Homo sapiens: one gene and its partners. The protein of the gene in region 1 interacts with the protein of each later gene in a pairwise test. Each region holds a gene or a part of one and is shown in the gene's direction. Other genes may lie near its edges.

Region 1 (7,210 bases):
AATCATAGTGCACTGTGGTCTCAAACTCCTGCCCTTCTCAAGTGATCCTCCCACCTCAGCCTCCAAAGTAGCTGGGACTACAGGCATGTGCCACCTTGCCTAGCTTCTTTATTTATTTATTGAGACAGAGTCTTGCACTGTTGCCCAGGCTGGAGGGCAGTGGTGCAATCTTGGCTCGCTGCAACCTCTATCTCCGGGGTGCAGGAGATTCTCATGCCTCAGCCTCCTGAGTAGCTGGGATTATAGGTGCCCACGACCATACCTAGGTAATTTTTGTGTTTTAGTAGAGACAGGATTTCACCATGTTGGCCAGGCTGGTCTCAAACTTGAGACCTCAGGTGATTCACCCGCCTTGGCCTCCCAAAGTGTTGGAATTACAGGCGTGAGCCACAGCGCCCGGCCTTCATTTTTAAAGTACATGAAAAAACTATTTATGACAATGTTGAGTTTTACCTAAGCACTGTGCTCCTAGAGAACAGCAATGATTAACCCCTTACCCCCTAACCCCACCTCAACCCCGTCTCTCGGGTTCTGGAAATGGCTCACTGCAATGACTGAGATAAAACTCATGGATTCCCCTCTATGGCGATTCCCCACTATACCCTGTTACTAGACCGGATACAGATAGCCCCAATTCCCATTTGCCTCATAAGTGACTAGCTGAAATGCTTGGCCCATTGATCAGCTGGAAAAAAATGCTCATTAATGAAACTTTGGTTAAGCTTTTGTCCTTCCCCAAGGCCTCTGAATTTTGGCCCACCCTCAGCCTAAACCAGCATGAAATCCCTCTGTAACAGCCCCCTTGAGAACAGGCTGGCCTCAGGATAAAGCAATCTCTGATCTACTGCCCCACCCTGTCACTCTCGTTCATCCCACTTACCTACACCAGGTTCTTTCTAGACTGGTTTACTCCTTCCTATAAAAGAAAATCCCTTTTTGCCTACCCCTTGAGAGTTTGTAGATTTATGGCCTGAGTGTTCTCCCTGTTTACAGAGTCTTACCACCCTCACCCCACCCCAAAATCATCCTTTTAAATAAAATCTCTCTTTATCAAATCTGGGTCTGTTTTTTTATTTGACATAATATGCAACATTCTTTTTTTCTTCTTCAGCTTCTGCTACGGAGTTTTATCCAAGCATAATATATTTTCATGCTTGGTAATATTTTATGAAGCACCCTATTGTACATTTCTGTCACACAATTATGCAGATAAATTTGAACTTGTTAACTCTAAAAAATTTTCTGTGACCATGAGGTTCTAAGGGTTAATTTTTTTTCCTTCTAGATTGAAATGTTGTTGTAATTATTAGTAGTACATATGATTAAAATACATGCATAGCATTTCATTATATGAGAGAATCTTTAAACATACAAGTTAATTAATCTTCATTAAAATGTCATGGAAAATATATCTTTGAAGGAGATGGATTGAGCCAGTTATTTTTCCATAAATTTGTGAGTCCAGAGATGAGTATCACTTTTTGTAAGAATGAGACAGAGGTGAGTCTGTTGTTTTGATTTTATAGTTGTAAGCCTGATAAACATTGTTTACATTAAAACCATAGAGAAATGGGAAGGGTTTTAGTCTGGCAATTCTCCCACTTCTTTTAAATTCCTGATAATTATCTATACTCATGTATTTATTTATTTATTCATTTATTTGTTTACTGGAGACAGGGTCTGTCTGGCTCTGTCACCCAGGCTGGAGTGCAGTGGCTCAATCATAGCTCACTGTAACCTCTAACTCCTGGACTCAAGGGATCCTCCCACTTCAGCCTCCCCAGTAGTTGGGACTGTAGGCACACACCTCCACATTTATTTATTTTTGTGAAGACAGGATCTTGCTATGTTGCCCATGCTGGTCTCAAACTCCTGGCCTCAAGCAGTCCTCCAGCCTTGGTCTCAAGAAAATGTTTTTAATGACCTAACAACATGATTAGATCCTCCTTGGATCTTGGTGAAAGCAAAGAATGAGAAACCACCTGACTTGTAGAAGGATTTCTTGCCCCGTCCTCAACAATAATTAATACATTATTTAGAATTGCCCTATTGTTTCTCCTGGAGACTTTTATTTCCCAAGGTAATGCAGCAGAGCAAGATTTAGAACAGGTGCAGTGTGAATTGCCTTTGAAAAGTGGGAGACAGCTGGTTACACATGAGGAGAGGGAAGCTGAACCCCAAAGACCCCAGGCATATTCTGAGGCCCAGCACCATGGAAGCAGAGGATCTGGATATTGACTCTCTTAAAACTCTCCTTGGTTGGGTGTGGTGGCTCACGCCTGTAATCCCAGCACTTTGAGAGGCCAAGGTGGGTGGATCACGAGGTCGGGAGTTCGAGACCAGCCTGACCAACATGGTGAAACCCCATCTCTACTAAAAATACAAAAATTAGCTGGGCATGGTGGCACGTGCCTGTAATCCCAGCTGTTCCTGAGGCTGAGGCAGGAAAATTACTTGAACCCGGGAGGCACATGTTGCAGTGAGCCGAGATTGTGCCACTGCATTCCAGCCTGGGTGACAGAGTGAGACTCCATCTCAAAAACAAAAACAAACAAAACAAAAAAAACTCTCCTTGCCCCAGATTTACCTCCCACAGTCCCCATGCCTGAAGACCGCTGTCCTATAACCCCTTCCCCTCTGCTCTCTGATCAACGCTGCCTCCTAAGTAGCATTTGAATCTGTCATTTCAAATGCTACTTAGGTGGGGAGCTCTTTATCCTCCACACCACTCTGGACATCATGATCTTCCAAATTTCCACAAACACTCCCCCACTCCTTTCTCCAGTCCTCATCCATTCCTCTCTATGCTGCAGCCAGAACAAGTTTTTTCAAATGCAGATTCACTGGTAAACTATCTATGGCTTAAATCCCTCTGCCTCCCCAAAGCCTTCAGGGGCCTGGGTAAAAGGATTGATCTCTCTTGTGACCTCATCCCTTGTCCTGCTTCCCTCAAATTTGTACTCCCATCAGAAAGAGCTCCTAGCTTATTTCTCATCACAGGTACGTTTCCAAATCACTTCTGCTTGCAAAATGTGAACTAAGAGAAGTCAGACTGCTTAGGTAAGGATCTTTGGATTCTAGGTGTTTCTCCTTAATTTAAGTGTCAATTTCCTTAACTGTAAAACTGAAATAATAGTAAGGTCATTGTACAAATTAACTGAGTATTTTGCCTGGCACATCATTCGTGCTCACATAATACGTGTGAACTGTTTATTATTGTTCTTGTTATTACTCATGTTACACTGAATTTTCTTTCTTTCTTTCTTTCTTTTTTTTTGAGACGGAGTTTTGCTCTTGGTGCCCAGGCTGGATGGAGTGCAATGGCGCGATCTCGGCTCACTGCAACCTCCGCCTTCTGGGCTCAAGCGATTCTCCTGCCTCAGCCTCCCGAGTAGCTGGGATTACAGGCTCCCGTCAACGCCCGGCTAATTTTTGTATTTTTGGAGAGATGGGGTTTCATGTTGGTCAGGCTGGTCTCAAACTCCTGACTTCAGGTGATCACCTGCCTCGGCCTCCCAAAGTGCTGGGATTACAGTCGTGAGCCACCGCGCCCCGGCCTCATGTTGCACTGAATTTTCTGTTAACCTTGCTGTTTCCCTGCTGTTAGATAAACAACTCAGGATGCTTATGTGTTTATTGTGTGCATCCCACTGCCAAGCCCACGTAGGAACTTAATACTTAGGAGTCAAGTGTTGCAAAAGAATAAATGAAAAAGCAGCGCTGACGGAGGAAACCTGACTTTCAAAGTCTCTCTTTAGTGCCTACTGTGTATATTATTTCCTTGAATCCCAGAACACCCGAGGAGGTAAGGGCCGATGTTCCCAATCTGCAGATGTGGGTGTACTCAGTAAGTCATTCGGCCTTTGGTGGTACCAGGCTTACAGGAGCCCACATCCCGACCCAGGTAGAGGAGTGGATTGGAGCCGGGGAACACTGATGGGACCGGGCAGGGACGACAGGAGGTCAGTCTCCCTTCCCTTCTCTTTAAAATTTCCCGCCAGTATGGCCGGCTCGCAGCACGAGTTACGCCCTCTTCAGGAGTCCCTCCCCTTCTGCTCTCGCCCGCCTCCCCGCTGCCAGGCAGGCTCGACCAATCAGAAGAGGTCTTGGGCGGGCGCTGCCGTCCAGCGAGCCAATAGGCGGGCAGTCGGAGCCGGGCTTGCCCGGGCATGTGGGAGCTGCCGGCTTTCCGGACGCCACGTGCAGACCGGAAGAGACACGCGGGGCTTCAGGTGAGATCCAGGACCCTGCACCGGGGCGGCGGGGTCGGGCGGGCTGAGGCCGCGTGTCCCGGGTCGCAGGTCCCCGCGCGTTGTTTCCGCCCCGGCCTGCGGCGGGGACGCCTGAACTGGGCTGACCCTGCCCTACCGGCCCGCAGAAAAGCAGGCCGGGCGCCGCCTGTCTCCAGCCCTCGCTCTGCTCGGGGGTCCAGGGCCAGAGGGGGCGGCGCTGGTCGTTGGGACTCGGCCCAGCTGCCGCGGCCAGCAAGTGACCAACGCCCGAGTCCTTCCCGGTGAGATCAGGCCTCCCACGCGTCACGCCTGGGAGAACGCCAGCCGGCGGGGAGGTCGTGCCAGGATAGCAGACTTTAGTTGTTGTCGTTGTTCCGTGGACTTTTTAGCAGCACAGGGGACCTTATCGAGCCAGGTTTTTTCAGGTTTGGGCGATTATCAGAATTGTGGCTTGAGGGTAGGGGTCGTCCGCGCTCTTTTTAAAAATCTAGATTCTCAGGCCCCTTTCCCCAAAATAGCAATTAGGACGGTGTGGGAGTGGGCCTGAAAATCAGCCTTTCATCAGATGTCATATGGTAATTAACTACATTTGGGAAGCCCTTATCTAATTCACAGCCCTCGGTTGATGGTGAAGAGACGTGACTTGCCCCAGATCATCTAGCTACTTAGTGCCAGAGGAGGGTCTAGAACTGCCCTCTGCCCTCTTGATCAGCCAGCAGGTTGGTGGCTCTCATGCCACCGAGGATTCTGACTTCTTGGTTCCTTTGGGGCCTTTGCTCCATTGACTCTGCAGCTGGGACCCTTTCTTTAGGCCAGACCCCCTCCCTGCCTGAAGGCCGGGTGTCTGACCCCCAGAGCGCTGGGTCCAGGCTAGAGAAAGGCTTGTGTTTGTCCTTGTTGAAAGGGTTGTTTTATCTGAGCGGAACTTCTCTCCAGCTTCACTGAGCTACATTTGGGTCCCCAAAGAGGTGTGTCCTTGATGACTGTTGGTTTTGACGTGTCAGCATGTAGCAGGAGGAGCCGCGGACAAAACCCCACAGAGGTAGTGAAGGAATTGGCTTTTAATCAGCTGGAAGCATCGGCAGACTAGCATCTCAAAATCCGAGCTTGTTGAGTGCACAGTTTCTGTCCCTTTTAAGGACTCACAACACTAAAGATTTTACAAGAAAGGGCCATGATTGATTGAGCAATCTAGGGGGTATGTGACAGGGACTGCATGCACCGGTAGTCAGAGTGAAACAGAACAGAACAGAACAAGAGATTTCACAGTGTCCTTCTATACAATGTCTGAAATCTATGGATAACATCGGTTGCTAGGTCATGGGTTTAATTTTAACTATCAGGCTAAGGTCAGGCAGGCCCAGGCCTGGTTTTGGGTCTGGTTTTGGGTCTGGTGCGTGGCGCCGGGCTGCCTGCCTTTGGTTTTGCTTCCTTGTTTCTTCTTAAAACAGGTACTGAGTATAAAATAATACAGAACAATATGAGGGGGAGGTCTCTTTCTCTCTTCTCTTAAGCAAGGTCAGGGTGTTTGGAAAAGGACTACTTTCCTCTCTTGAAATAGGAGGCTACAGAGACCTTTTCTCAGATAACTTAATTTCTGGCTTCTTTAAAACCTTGCCAGTAGGATCAGGAAAGCCACCCACCCTACTCCTAGCCTCAGCCCCTCACAGAGAAAGGAGGGGACTATCCGCCAGCCCCCTTTCCCAAATTAGTTATTAGCAGGGTGGGCATTGGGCTTCTTAGGCTTTTTTCTCCCATTGCTGGGCTGAGGCAGATTAAGGTTCTGAATTTGTCAGTTCTAAGATGTGACTGTCAATATGAGGAAGTTGGTTACAGTTAAGACCTTTTTAAAAGAGAGACCTTTTCTCCTGGAAAGGATGGGATGAGCAAGCAGGGTGGATGAGTCAGGATGGGTCAGGTCTGGATGAGTCAAGTCAGGATGCGGTGCCCTGCCCTAGAGTGTGGGGATTCTTTATGCAAATGCTGGCATCATCAAACCTGGCATTTCACCTCACCTCCCATCCCCTTCCCATTTCTCTTAATCTCTGCTGCTACTGCTCAGGTTTTCATCTTCTCCAGACCTCTTTCTACACCCTTCTGAAGAGGACCTGCCACATGCTAGCTTCTAGGCTGGCTGTTGGGGAAGGTACAATCAAGGCTCTAACCTGCCTTCTTACAGCTCTGAGGTAGACTGTGTGTACCAATGGACTTTGAAGGGTGTAATAATTCTCAAATTGTGCTATAAGAGCTCAGCACAGAGGGATGAATTTCTTTGCTCCCCAGCTAGACTTAGTGTCCTGAGTCAGGGCTACTGTGGGATATTTCAGTGACCTCCATAGGTGCCTCTGGGGCTCCCCCACTCACTTGGCCAGTAGAGACCAATTCAGGGGACACCAGATTGCGGTAGGGGTGGCTTGTGGAAGGGCCACCAGAGTAGGAAACAGAAGATGAAATGGTGCAAAGGAGAGAGGAGCGAGGAGCAGTGCCTCCAGCATGACCCGCCTTATGCTCTACACCCCAGTGACTTGAGGCTGCTGGTGGGCCCTCTTCCTCCACCCTGGGTTAGTCCTTTTTAAGGCCTTTGCCCCTAACATGGCCACTGATTCTTCTCCCTTCTACCTGGAAGGTTACTGTTGTACATGCACACAGATGTAGCCTCTTCCAGGAAGCCTCCAGAGAATTGTCCTCCAGCCTGTTTTGCCTCCCTAGCACCTCTGCTTCAGCCCTTAACACACTTTATGCTTGGTTTCTGTCTCCACCATGAAACTAAACTTCTTGGAGTCCAGGATCCACCTGTGCAGCCGCCCAGCATCTGGCACAGTGGAGACCCGAGAGAGCCTCAGTATGGCATTGGCCTGTGCAACCCAGTGGGACAGAGTTTCTTCCAGAAGGGCTTCTGGGTGGTGGCGGAACAGTAGCTGAGTCTGAAAGAGCAGGAGGGCTGTGAGTGGGAAGGGAGGCTGTGGCTTGGGAAAGGG
Region 2 (3,543 bases), on another chromosome or scaffold:
AGACATGGGAGTATTGGTTCCTAGAGTGGTGGTGAGTTCCAGCACCTGTTCTGCTCAGTCCCGCCCCTCTTTTTTTCCTAGCTGGTCCTTTCAGTGGGCCAGATACCAGAATCACATGCCCCCAGCACCAGGTACCCTATTTTTTTCCTCTGTTTTCTGCCCACTTTTCTTTGAAGGCCATAAAGACTCTGTGACTTGTGCTGGTTTCAGCCATGACTCCACTCTAGTGGCCACAGGGGACATGAGTGGCCTCTTGAAAGTGTGGCAGGTGGACACTAAGGAGGAGGTCTGGTCCTTTGAAGCGGGAGACCTGGAGGTAAGATCATCAGAGCGGGAGTCAGCTCTGTGGGGCCTTGGGTTGTTGGGGGTGCAAGCTTGGGAGGCCAGTTCTGCCTTTATTGCGCCAAGCCAGCTCTGAGCCAATGCGCCCCAAGGCACAGGAAGAATATCTACCTGCTACCTGGAAAGTCCCCGCGGAACCCCAGAGGCAGGAAACCTTGGGTGGAGCTCATGGGGCAGGCTTCTAGGTGGGATGGGGTGACGGGCCTCCCTGCTGCCCCTTCCTCCCTGTCCAGTGGATGGAGTGGCATCCTCGGGCACCTGTCCTGTTGGCGGGCACAGCTGACGGCAACACCTGGATGTGGAAAGTCCCGAATGGTGACTGCAAGACCTTCCAGGGTCCCAACTGCCCAGCCACCTGTGGCCGAGTCCTCCCTGATGGTGAGAGCACCTCCCTTGAGTGACCTTTCCTGGGTGCAGAGGCCGAATCCCGGGATATACACCTCCCAGAGCAGCCTTCTGGGTCACAGCCGGCAAAATCTGAGGCCTGCTGTTTGCAGTGCTGACCTCCTGGGCCCCAAAGTTCACAGCGCCTCCTTCCTGCTCTGAACTCACCTGTGATTCCTGGGGCAGTGTCTGGGCCCTTCCACTCTTCTTTCCTCTCCCTCTCCCCATTCCCTTGCTTAGTGTATGTGAGCGTGCCCTCTGCCCTCTCTTCATCTGTGCCTCTCTTCAGGGAAGAGAGCTGTGGTAGGCTATGAAGATGGGACCATCAGGATTTGGGACCTGAAGCAGGGAAGCCCTATCCATGTACTGAAAGGTATCAGAGGTGGGGGAAGTGTTAGCCTGGGCCTTTGTAGGGAGGGGCTGAGAACCTGGGGCAGGACTCAGAGGGGAGGTAGGACGAAGCCTGAGCTGCCTCCCTGCTCTATGCTAGGGACTGAGGGTCACCAGGGCCCACTCACCTGTGTTGCTGCCAACCAGGATGGCAGCTTGATCCTAACTGGCTCTGTGGACTGCCAGGCCAAGCTGGTCAGTGCCACCACCGGCAAGGTGAGTGGACCTGGAGCCCGGCTGGGGCCTCCGCTTTCCCGACTCCTCTCCTTCCTTCCTGGGTCTTCACTGTCTCCTCTCCCCACCGTCTTTCTCTCCATCAAGCACCCGGATTCCGTGTCCTCCTCTGATCCTCTCTGGCTTTCAGGTGGTGGGTGTTTTTAGACCTGAGACTGTGGCCTCCCAGCCCAGCCTGGGAGAAGGGGAGGAGAGTGAGTCCAACTCGGTGGAGTCCTTGGGCTTCTGCAGTGTGTGAGTGAGGATGGGGAAAGGGGTTTGTGGGAGGGGCCTGGGCTGGGGGCCCGGGAGGACGGCAGGGCGTGTGAGTCCAGGCCCTCATGAGTCTTCATGGTACGCTCCTCTGGCCAGGATGCCCCTGGCAGCTGTTGGCTACCTGGATGGGACCTTGGCCATCTATGACCTGGCTACGCAGACTCTTAGGCATCAGTGTCAGCACCAGGTATGGGCAGCTGGAGCTGGGGTCCCTGTGGGCTGTGTCCATAGTGGTGGGGAAGCCCAGGCCTCCAGGAGCATCTACCCCAGATCTGGCTCCTGCCTGGCCCTTGTGTGTGGCTGTCCCTCTTTGAGAATTGGGAGCAGATGGCTCTCAGCTCTCCTGCCAACCTCCGCCCTGCCTCTGTCATTCCTCGGGGCAGTCGGGCATCGTGCAGCTGCTGTGGGAGGCAGGCACTGCCGTGGTATATACCTGCAGCCTGGATGGCATCGTGCGCCTCTGGGACGCCCGGACCGGCCGCCTGCTTACTGACTACCGGGGCCACACGGCTGAGATCCTGGACTTTGCCCTCAGCAAGTAAGTGAATTGGCCAAGGGCTGGGATCTTTGTGTATTTGGAAGGTGGCAGTAGTATGTAGGGGACACAGGATCCTTGGGGTGTGGGAAGGGATTCCTAAGGCAGGAATGCAGAGAAGCCTGAGGGTTCACAGCCCAGCCCCCATTCCAGTGGCTGACAGTGACCCTCCGGGGCCCCACGTCTCAGTCATGAGGGAGAGGCTGAGACTGATTTTCCCCATCGGAGTCAGCTCTGCTTCTCCCGTGCTGGGGGCTTCCTCTAATCCCCTCCATGCTGGCTGCAGAGATGTCGGCCCAGTGCTAGGCACTAGGGCCCTAGAACTGAGGGTGTGCTGGAGGAGCCCACCCTAGGGCCCCTAGGTGGTGGGCTTGGGTCCCCCAGTCTCTGCAATCACATGCTTTCTGTTTACAGAGATGCCTCCCTGGTGGTGACCACGTCAGGAGACCACAAAGCGAAAGTATTTTGTGTCCAAAGGCCTGACCGTTAATGGCTGCAGCCCCTGCCTGTGTGTCTGGTGTTGAGGGGACGAAGGGACCCCTGCCCCTGTCTGCCAGCAGAGGCAGTAGGGCACAGAGGGAAGAGGAGGGTGGGGCCCTGGATGACTTTCCAGCCTCTTCAACTGACTTGCTCCCCTCTCCTTTTCTTCTCTTTAGAGACCCAGCCCAGGGCCCTCCCACCCTTGTCCAGACCTGGTGGGCCCTTCAGAGGGAGGGGTGGACCTGTTTCTCTTTCACTTTCATTTGCTGGTGTGAGCCATGGGGTGTGTATTTGTATGTGGGGAGTAGGTGTTTGAGGTTCCCGTTCTTTCCCTTCCCAAGTCTCTGGGGGTGGAAAGGAGGAAGAGATACTAGTTAAAGATTTTAAAAATGTAAATAAAATATACTTCCCAGAGACAGAGTCTGTGTGGATTTTGTGATGGCTGGACCCTAGGAGGAGCTAGCGAGGGCCCCGTCAGGGCAAGGCTGTCCCGCAGAATCGGCTGGATGTTGAGATGTGCCAGCTCCCCATCTCCAGGGGTGGTCTGTGCGCACGACACTTCTTGCCTGCCTGGAGTCGGACTCTGCCTTAATCCACGCGTATGTCTGTAGGTTCTTTCTATTGTTGGTGTGTTGAGCCATTTCCTCCTGCCTCGCCCTGAGATATGGAATGAGATAATCATAAACGGCCAGAGGAGCTTTATTCAGTCAGTGCGGGGTCAAACAGAGGCAGGGTCTCTGATCCAGAGAAGTGGGGCCCGGTAGAGACAGGCTGGATGGCTGAGCTGGACGGATGCTCTGGTAGGAGTCAGCAGAGGCCCTTCCTTTAGTTCAAGTCCAGGTCGACACTGCTTTGGCTGCTTGGGTGGTAGGCAATGCTGGGGCCGGGACTGTCCCGGGAGGCTCTTCCCCACAGCCCCTGCA
Region 3 (6,926 bases), on another chromosome or scaffold:
ATCCATAGTACAGTTTATTCCAAATAATGATATGAAGTTATACCCTCAAATACAGGACCTCAACTTGATTCTGCAGTAGACTAGGTTCAACTGATGTTTGTTTTTTTGAGTAAATTAACACTTCTGCAGAAGGCGGCTACATGCCTCAGTAAGCAGAGGATGGGGGAGGTGGGGAGAAGAGACCAGGGGCCCTCAGGGTTGGGTCAGAGCCTCCTTAGCTTCTATCCACGTGGCAAAGCTGTAGGTGTGCTTGTGTGTCTATTCCTCTGTGTCTCTCCCTGCACGTCAGACAATCCAGCTACAATCGTCAGACTGCTCCCTTTACATTTCTGCTGGGGACTTGGAGGGAGGAGGGAATGGGGAAAGGGCTCCCTATTTAGAAATTGCATTGAGATGGAAAGACAATATGACACATCGGCTCATGTCAAAGGAGCTCATTCTTCCCGCCTACAGCATTAGCAATTTCCTACCAAGGTTCAATTTTTTTAAAGAAATTATTATTTGGTTTTAATTTATTTTATTTGCAACATAACTCAACAAGACATTGCTGCTCAGAGCAGAGTGGGAGCCTGCCCAAGGGCAGAGACTTAAGTTGGGGGCAGGAGATGAGCACATTGGCTATTTCCGAAGAGAGGAGGGCATAGGAGTGGGAGGCCTCTTGTTTCTGTCTCAAACCTCCTCTCATTCTGCCTCCCATTCCACCCCAGCTCCTCTTCCTGCATCTGAGAAGTCTGGTCTGGAGGTGCCCAGACTCGGGATGCTCCATGCATGGCTGTAGGCGCAATGAGAACGATGGGGGAGGGGGAGCTGAAAGTGAGTTGGCCTCTGTAAAACCACCCTCAGCTTCAGAGCCAGGAAAGGCTGCCTCCCTCCTCCCTTTGCCCCAGCCTCCTCTTTTCTCCCTCATGTAAAATCCTAGAGTGCTGTTGCTGGAAGGAGCCTCAAAGAGCTCCTAATCCAACTTCACATAGGCACACTGAGCCCCAGATAGGGGATGTGACAGCCTCGTGGCTGCTTTGGTGCACCAGCCCTGAATCCCAGCCCTCCCAGGCCCTGTCCAATGTACTTATTTGCCACCACTCCATGCTTAACTGTCTCTGCTCCTGCTTCTCTCCTCCCCACCCCTAAACCCAAACTCAGAATGGGATTTCTCTGAGAGATAGAATTGAAGGGCAACAATTCCACTTCTTTCCACCTCTTTCCCTCTCTGGGTTTGAGTGGGACCCTGGATCCTCCCTCCCAGCTCTTGGTGGGACCCTGGGACTCTGAATTTTATCTCTTCATATGGGAAGAAGCAAAGGTGTGTTTGGGGGTTGGGTTTGCAGGGCAAAGGGGTTTGAGAGACAAAAAAGTTTCCATCATTACATGAAGAATTTTTCTGCTTTGTGGCTGGTTATGTGACCACAGTGGTATCAGCAATTGACCTGGGGGCTGGGGGAGGTAGCGGGCTAAAGAGGACAACTAGGGTGAGGCTTTACCTTAATGTCTCCTTCTGAATGTGTGTTTCTTTACCTGTACATCTGTCTCCCTGTCTGTTTCTCTGTTCTCTATTTCCTATAACTGTCTCTCTGTATCTCTGTCTCATCCTCTGTCTCTCTCATTTGTATCTGTCTCTTGCCTCTATTTCTGTCTCTGTTTCTTTCTCTCTGTCTCTCTCATCTCTGTCTCTCCCACACACGCTAACTCCTACAATCCAACTTCAATAGCTATTGACTGACCCAGGGGCCCTAACCTGTTTCTGCAGCCCTATCAGGGCAGCAGCTCCTTCACACTGCTAGATTGAGAAATGCCAGGTCCGGAGCTGCTGCCGGGGCGCCAGAGACGCTGCAGAAGCGCCTGCCGAGTGTGGAGGCTGAATCCAGGAACAATGAGAAATTATCTGTTAATTCTCGGCTCCTGCCACCTGCTCTGCTCCAAACAAGCTCCTTTGCCTTCAGTTTAGATGCAAATTCCCCCACTCGATGTAAGCAAAATATTGATTTCCCTGCATCACAGGTCTGGGCCCTTGGAATGGTCCTGTGTTTTTTCATTCTCTGCAAAGGCAAAACAAGGTGCTTTGTTCTGTGAATTTCCCCCAGGAACTCGCGAGGGGGAGGGAGAAATAGCAGGGGAGTGACAGAGTTGCCATAAACACGGGCAAAGAGCAGTTCTCCATTTGTATTTTACATAAACACAAACCTGCCACTTGGGAAACTGCTAATAAGCGTTTAGCCAGAGGCTCTTCTGGGTGCTGAGATCTGCATCGGGTGATGGAAAAGAAATTAATGGGGCCTCTAGGCTCCTCAGGTGGGTTTTCAGAAGCACCAGGAAGGCGCATAGGGATGCCAGAGCCCCACTTGTTCTTGGAACAGCAACCAAACACCTCCAGCAGGAAGGCAGCCCGGATTGCACAGTATCGCCTGCGTCGTGTCTGCTTGGTCCCTGCCTGAGTTCCTAGCCTTCTGCTATCACAGGCACAGGGGTCAGGGTGGAAGCTGCGAACCTTCAACAATTGCCTCTCCCTCGTCCCCTAAACTTATGCCCACGCGATGGTAGCACCAACTGGGTCTTCAGCACCGTGGACAGAGCCAGGGGGCGCCTCACGGTGGAAAAGCCGCCTGGCTGGGCCAGGGTCCTCACAGGCCTTGCCTTAGCCCTTGGTGCCCCAGGCACCAGCTGCTAGGGGATCGCAAGTCCAAGGGCCGGTTGGCACAGATGGCGCGCAGTGGAGACCGCCAGGAGCTAAGGCTCCGAATCTCCTCCCTCCGGAACGTGAGTCACTGCCCGAGTCACTTCCAATAAGCGTGTTAATTAAGAGGCAAGACCTTTCTCCCTCGCCAGCCACTCGGGCATACACCAACCCAGCAGCCTCCAGGGGCTGCAGCTAAAGCTTCCTTCCCAGCTCCGGGAGAGCAAATGGACCTGAGTCTGGGGCTTCAGGCGAGCCCCACACAGAAGGGGCCCCACCGCCGACAGGTGTAGATCAAGAGACTCCCGAGATAGGCCCCTGCAGGGCGCTGGTCCCCCGGCCTCCCTGACCATGGCTCACAGACTTCCAGCGCTGAGTGAGGCAGCTCGAAGCCTCTCAGCCGATCTGTTCCTGGGCCTCACTCCACAGTTTCTGAGGGGATCTCTACTTTAAGTCTAGCCTCAATCCTCCCGTTGAGCTTTCTGTCTTTCTTGTTATGCTTAGCAGAAAGATACATGATCTCTGGTGCTGTTTCACCGAAGCAAGGAGGTGGGTCGGCGGAACTGAGCGCCCTGCGCCCTCTTGAAATGACCCCCCATTCCTGTTTGCCAGAAACTTTTCCCTCCCGTTGCCATGGAGAGAGACGGCCGCTGCCTCCCGTCGCCATAGCAACATGCGGGTACCGCGGACCGCAGGATTGCGGAGCTCGGAAAGTCTTGCAGTTCGCATCGCCCGCCTGTCTTGGGGTCTTCTACCTCCGAAGCTGGGACTCGGGGGCCAGTCTAACTGCTCCCGTCAGGAACCTCGGCCAAGGTCCTCCCAGACCCTGCCTGACCGTCGCTCTTTCTGTTACGGGGTTATCTATTTCTCTGTCATTCGTGTGGCATGTGGCAGTTTACCCAGTGTTTTCACAAACACGATCTTTCTATCCCCAGGGAGTCCGTGAAGTACTTAAAATCATTACACCTCCTTTACGGAGAGGAAAATTGAGGCTCAGAGACGCCCAAGGTCACACCAGGCAGTGAATGCGGAGTGGGAACCCGGACTCTTTCCTGGCCTTGCACCCTCCGAGATTCGGGACAGCCCGGCTTCCCGCCTCGAAACCCCCACCCCCCGGACTCAGGCCAGTCCCTGAGTGTAGAGGGGGCGGCCGCGAGGCGCCAGACTCGCCAGCTGCCGCGGGATGCCACGTGAGGGGCGGGGACCCTGCGGGGAAGTGATTAAAAGCAGAGCGGAGCCGCAGGGGGCCGCTGCAGGGAGGGTCTTCTTGGGGCCGTCGTGCCCCGCCCCAGTGCGGCCGGGGCGCGGGTTCGAGCTGCTGCTCGGCAAGCCTGGGTGTCTAGGGCATGAGCGGAGTGTGGGGGGCCGGCGGGCCTCGGTGCCAGGAGGCGCTCGCGGTCCTCGCCTCGCTGTGCCGGGCCCGGCCGCCCCCTCTCGGGCTGGACGTGGAGACTTGTCGGAGCTTCGAGCTGCAGCCCCCAGAGCGGAGTCCCAGCGCGGCAGGCGCAGGTAACGGGAGACCCAGGGCCCCCTCCCTTCCTGGATATCCGTCCTGCGATCTCCCTTCCCCAAAGCCCCGGTCCCAGGAGCCCCAGAACCTAGAGAGAACTCCCCAGCTCGGGATTCTGGATTGGGAGCCAGCCTCGTCCAGCCCTCTGGCCCATCGCTTGCACAGCCAGGAGAGACCCGAAGGGGAGCGGAGGTTGGGGTAGAAGCCCCCGGCCCTCCTGTATTACTACTGCGGAATGCGGGGGACCCCGCAGACAGCCAGGCTCCCAGGACGGGGCACCCTTGGGGCTTCAGTTTCCCTCGCATCTCCAAGCTCGCTCTGCGGGCGATTTGCCAGGAGAGGGGTCCATGGAGAGAGCGGGAGACGAGGGGCGCCCGGCTGAGGAATAGGGCTTGCCTCCTAGCGAGTGTCGAGGTCCCCGGGTCCGTGCGTCGGTCTGTCCGTCCGTTTGTGTGTTCTCGCGGTGAACGCGGGCGGACCCCCAGTCTCTCCGGGAGAAACTTGGGTCTGCGGCTGGCACGAGGTCTTTGTGTCCGGGTGTCTCTCCGGCTGCGAGTGGTTTTCCGCGTCTCCGCTGGGGGGCGGGGGACAGGGGGCGGGGTGGGGGAGGGTATGAGGGTGTTGCGGCGTCCTTCCCCCACCCCCTCTCGCCCCTATAACTCGCTCCCTCCGTCCCTCTCGGACTCGGACTCGGGGCCGGTGCGCGACTGAGCTGGCGCCTCTAGCCGACTTTGCCAAGAGGGCGCCTCCTGCCCGATCCGCGCTGACCCTGCGCGGGACGCAGCCCCAGGCGGCTGCCTAGCCGAGGCGGGAGCCCGAGCTGAGTCGAGCTCGCCGGAGCGGGTGAGTCCCGAGCCCGATCCCCGCCGGGCTGGACCCTGGCGCGCAGCTGCGGCGTCTCCGGGGAGTCGCGGCAGGGGGAATGGCGTGTCGCGCCCTGGCGGCGGGAGCTGCGGGAGGGTCGGCGACGTGGCGGCCGGCCCAGGGTATTTACCTGCTGCACCAGTGCCCGGCAGCCACGCTCGCCGGCTGCCGCGGGGCTTCTTTGTCCCGATATCTGGAGGGTCCGGGGCGGGAGGGAGTACTGGGTCGCGTCCCCTCCATGGGGGAGGGGCTGGGGGAGTGAGAGGCCTGGAGATAATGCGGAGTGGGGGTGGGGAGATCCTGCAAGGACCAGGACGCCGGGGTTCCAGGAGACTCTGCAGGCTCCATCCCTCCTTATTCCCCCACCCCGACCCCAGTAGCGCTGGGCCTAGGAGCACTCGGGAGTTGCTCAGTGGCTCTGCACCGCTGGCGCGGGAAGGGGAGAAAGGGGCTGCCAGAGGCGGGAATTTGGTCCCCACGCGCTGCTCCAGGGACGAGAAGCCAGGGACCGGCGGTTCTGGGAGCAGGTACAGGTGGGGTAAACTCCCCAGCGGCTGCAGGTCCCAGGGTCCTGTTTTCTTTCACTTGAGGTTAAAGGTCGTATATAGAGGTAGATACCCGTGAGGAGCAGTTCGGGGGAGGGGGCGGTGGGCCAAGGGGAGGCTTGTGTGTGTGAGGGGGCTGTATCCAGCCTTGGGGTGAGCGGAGCCCACCTGAGCCCTGTGAGGGTCGTAGGAGGCGCTGCTGTCCCTAGTTGTGGCAATGTTTAGTCAATGGTTTGATCACTGCAGCAGAAGGGACTGAGGTTAGACATAAAGAACTTTTAGAGGGTGGTACAGAGATGGAGGTTGGGGAAGTTGATTCCCTGCCTTGGAGATTCGCAGAACACATTAGGCCTAACAAGTTATTATTATAAGACTCTGGTTCTCTGGTGCCATCCCCTCCTACACCACGCATACACACCAGACACAGAATTTTCCCTATCAGGGAGCCTCTTCCTGCCTCTCCCTACTCCCCAGCTCCCTTCCGTCTTTTCCACCAATGATCCATCTCCAGTGGAGCCTTAATGCTGGTCCTGACCCTCAGAGCCTAGAGGGTGAGAACATACCTGTGGAGTTCCATCTGGGATGGAAGCTGACTCTCCTGTCTGTTCAGGGCAGAAATGCTGGGGGTGACGGTGGAAGTTGCTGGAAGTGGGGCAGGGCTGTATGTGTGCAGCACATCTTGGTAGGGGGAGGCACAGGTGTTCTGACTCCACAGAGATACCCATAATCTGGAATGACAGGTGCCTGGATGGCCAGGTTGAGGGTGAGAAAAGCCTGAGGGGTGAGAGTCGGCAGGCCCAGATGAATTACTATGCCTTCCCTGCAGGCTGCATCAGAAGATGAGTTCTAGTTGTTAGCTCAGGAAAACTTTAACTTTGGCTGCTGAGTCACAAGTCCCAGGAAGCCCAGGGTCCAAGCTGAGAGGCTGAAAGGGATATGGGGAGGCAGGAGCAGACCCTTTGATCATAGCAAGAGAAAGATAGTGGTTGAGAGTGGCCTTGGGATTTTGAGAATTTAGGTGACCAGAGGGTCTGGGGAGATGCCATGGAGTTCAGGACCAGGCCCCAGCTGTTCCGCCTCCCAGCCTGCTCTCTGGGTCCAGATTCTCCAACCAGCACAATGCTAGAGCTTTTCATTTGTTGCAGTTTTATGAAAAATGCAAGTGGCTAGAGCAGGCCCAGCTCTGTTTACCATTTTATGTTTTCCCTTGACTTCTTCCTGTTCTAAGTCTCTAGCTTACAGATTTCTAGTAACACCCTGAGACTGAGATTCAGACTCCACTGTCATTTGCTGAGACTCCTCTATAGGCTAGAGTCTGTGCTAGGAATTGCACAGGAAG

What was found.
Region 2: the proteins of AEN (region 1) and AAMP interact in binary tests that used the Homo sapiens proteins (3 or more experiments, as listed by UniProt).
Region 3: the proteins of AEN (region 1) and SYT6 interact in binary tests that used the Homo sapiens proteins (3 or more experiments, as listed by UniProt).

The regions. Positions count from the first base shown.
Region 1 is NC_000015.10:88,617,151-88,624,360, forward strand, and holds the start of AEN (apoptosis-enhancing nuclease), read left to right. Parts: upstream 1-4,189; 5' UTR 4,190-4,232; exon of another isoform or gene 4,233-4,513; intron 4,514-7,210. UniProt on the Homo sapiens protein: Exonuclease with activity against single- and double-stranded DNA and RNA. Mediates p53-induced apoptosis.
Region 2 is NC_000002.12:218,263,620-218,267,162, reverse strand, and holds the end of AAMP (angio-associated migratory cell protein), read left to right. Parts: intron 1-176; coding exon 177-316; intron 317-575; coding exon 576-720; intron 721-1,015; coding exon 1,016-1,099; intron 1,100-1,216; coding exon 1,217-1,332; intron 1,333-1,480; coding exon 1,481-1,584; intron 1,585-1,701; coding exon 1,702-1,792; intron 1,793-1,988; coding exon 1,989-2,143; intron 2,144-2,554; coding exon 2,555-2,630; 3' UTR 2,631-3,034; downstream 3,035-3,543. Other genes in the region: GPBAR1 (G-protein coupled bile acid receptor 1), read right to left, coding at 3,446-3,543. UniProt on the Homo sapiens protein: Plays a role in angiogenesis and cell migration. In smooth muscle cell migration, may act through the RhoA pathway.
Region 3 is NC_000001.11:114,150,861-114,157,786, reverse strand, and holds the start of SYT6 (synaptotagmin-6), read left to right. Parts: upstream 1-3,917; 5' UTR 3,918-4,014; coding exon 4,015-4,177; intron 4,178-4,864; exon of another isoform or gene 4,865-5,021; intron 5,022-5,346; exon of another isoform or gene 5,347-5,569; intron 5,570-6,926.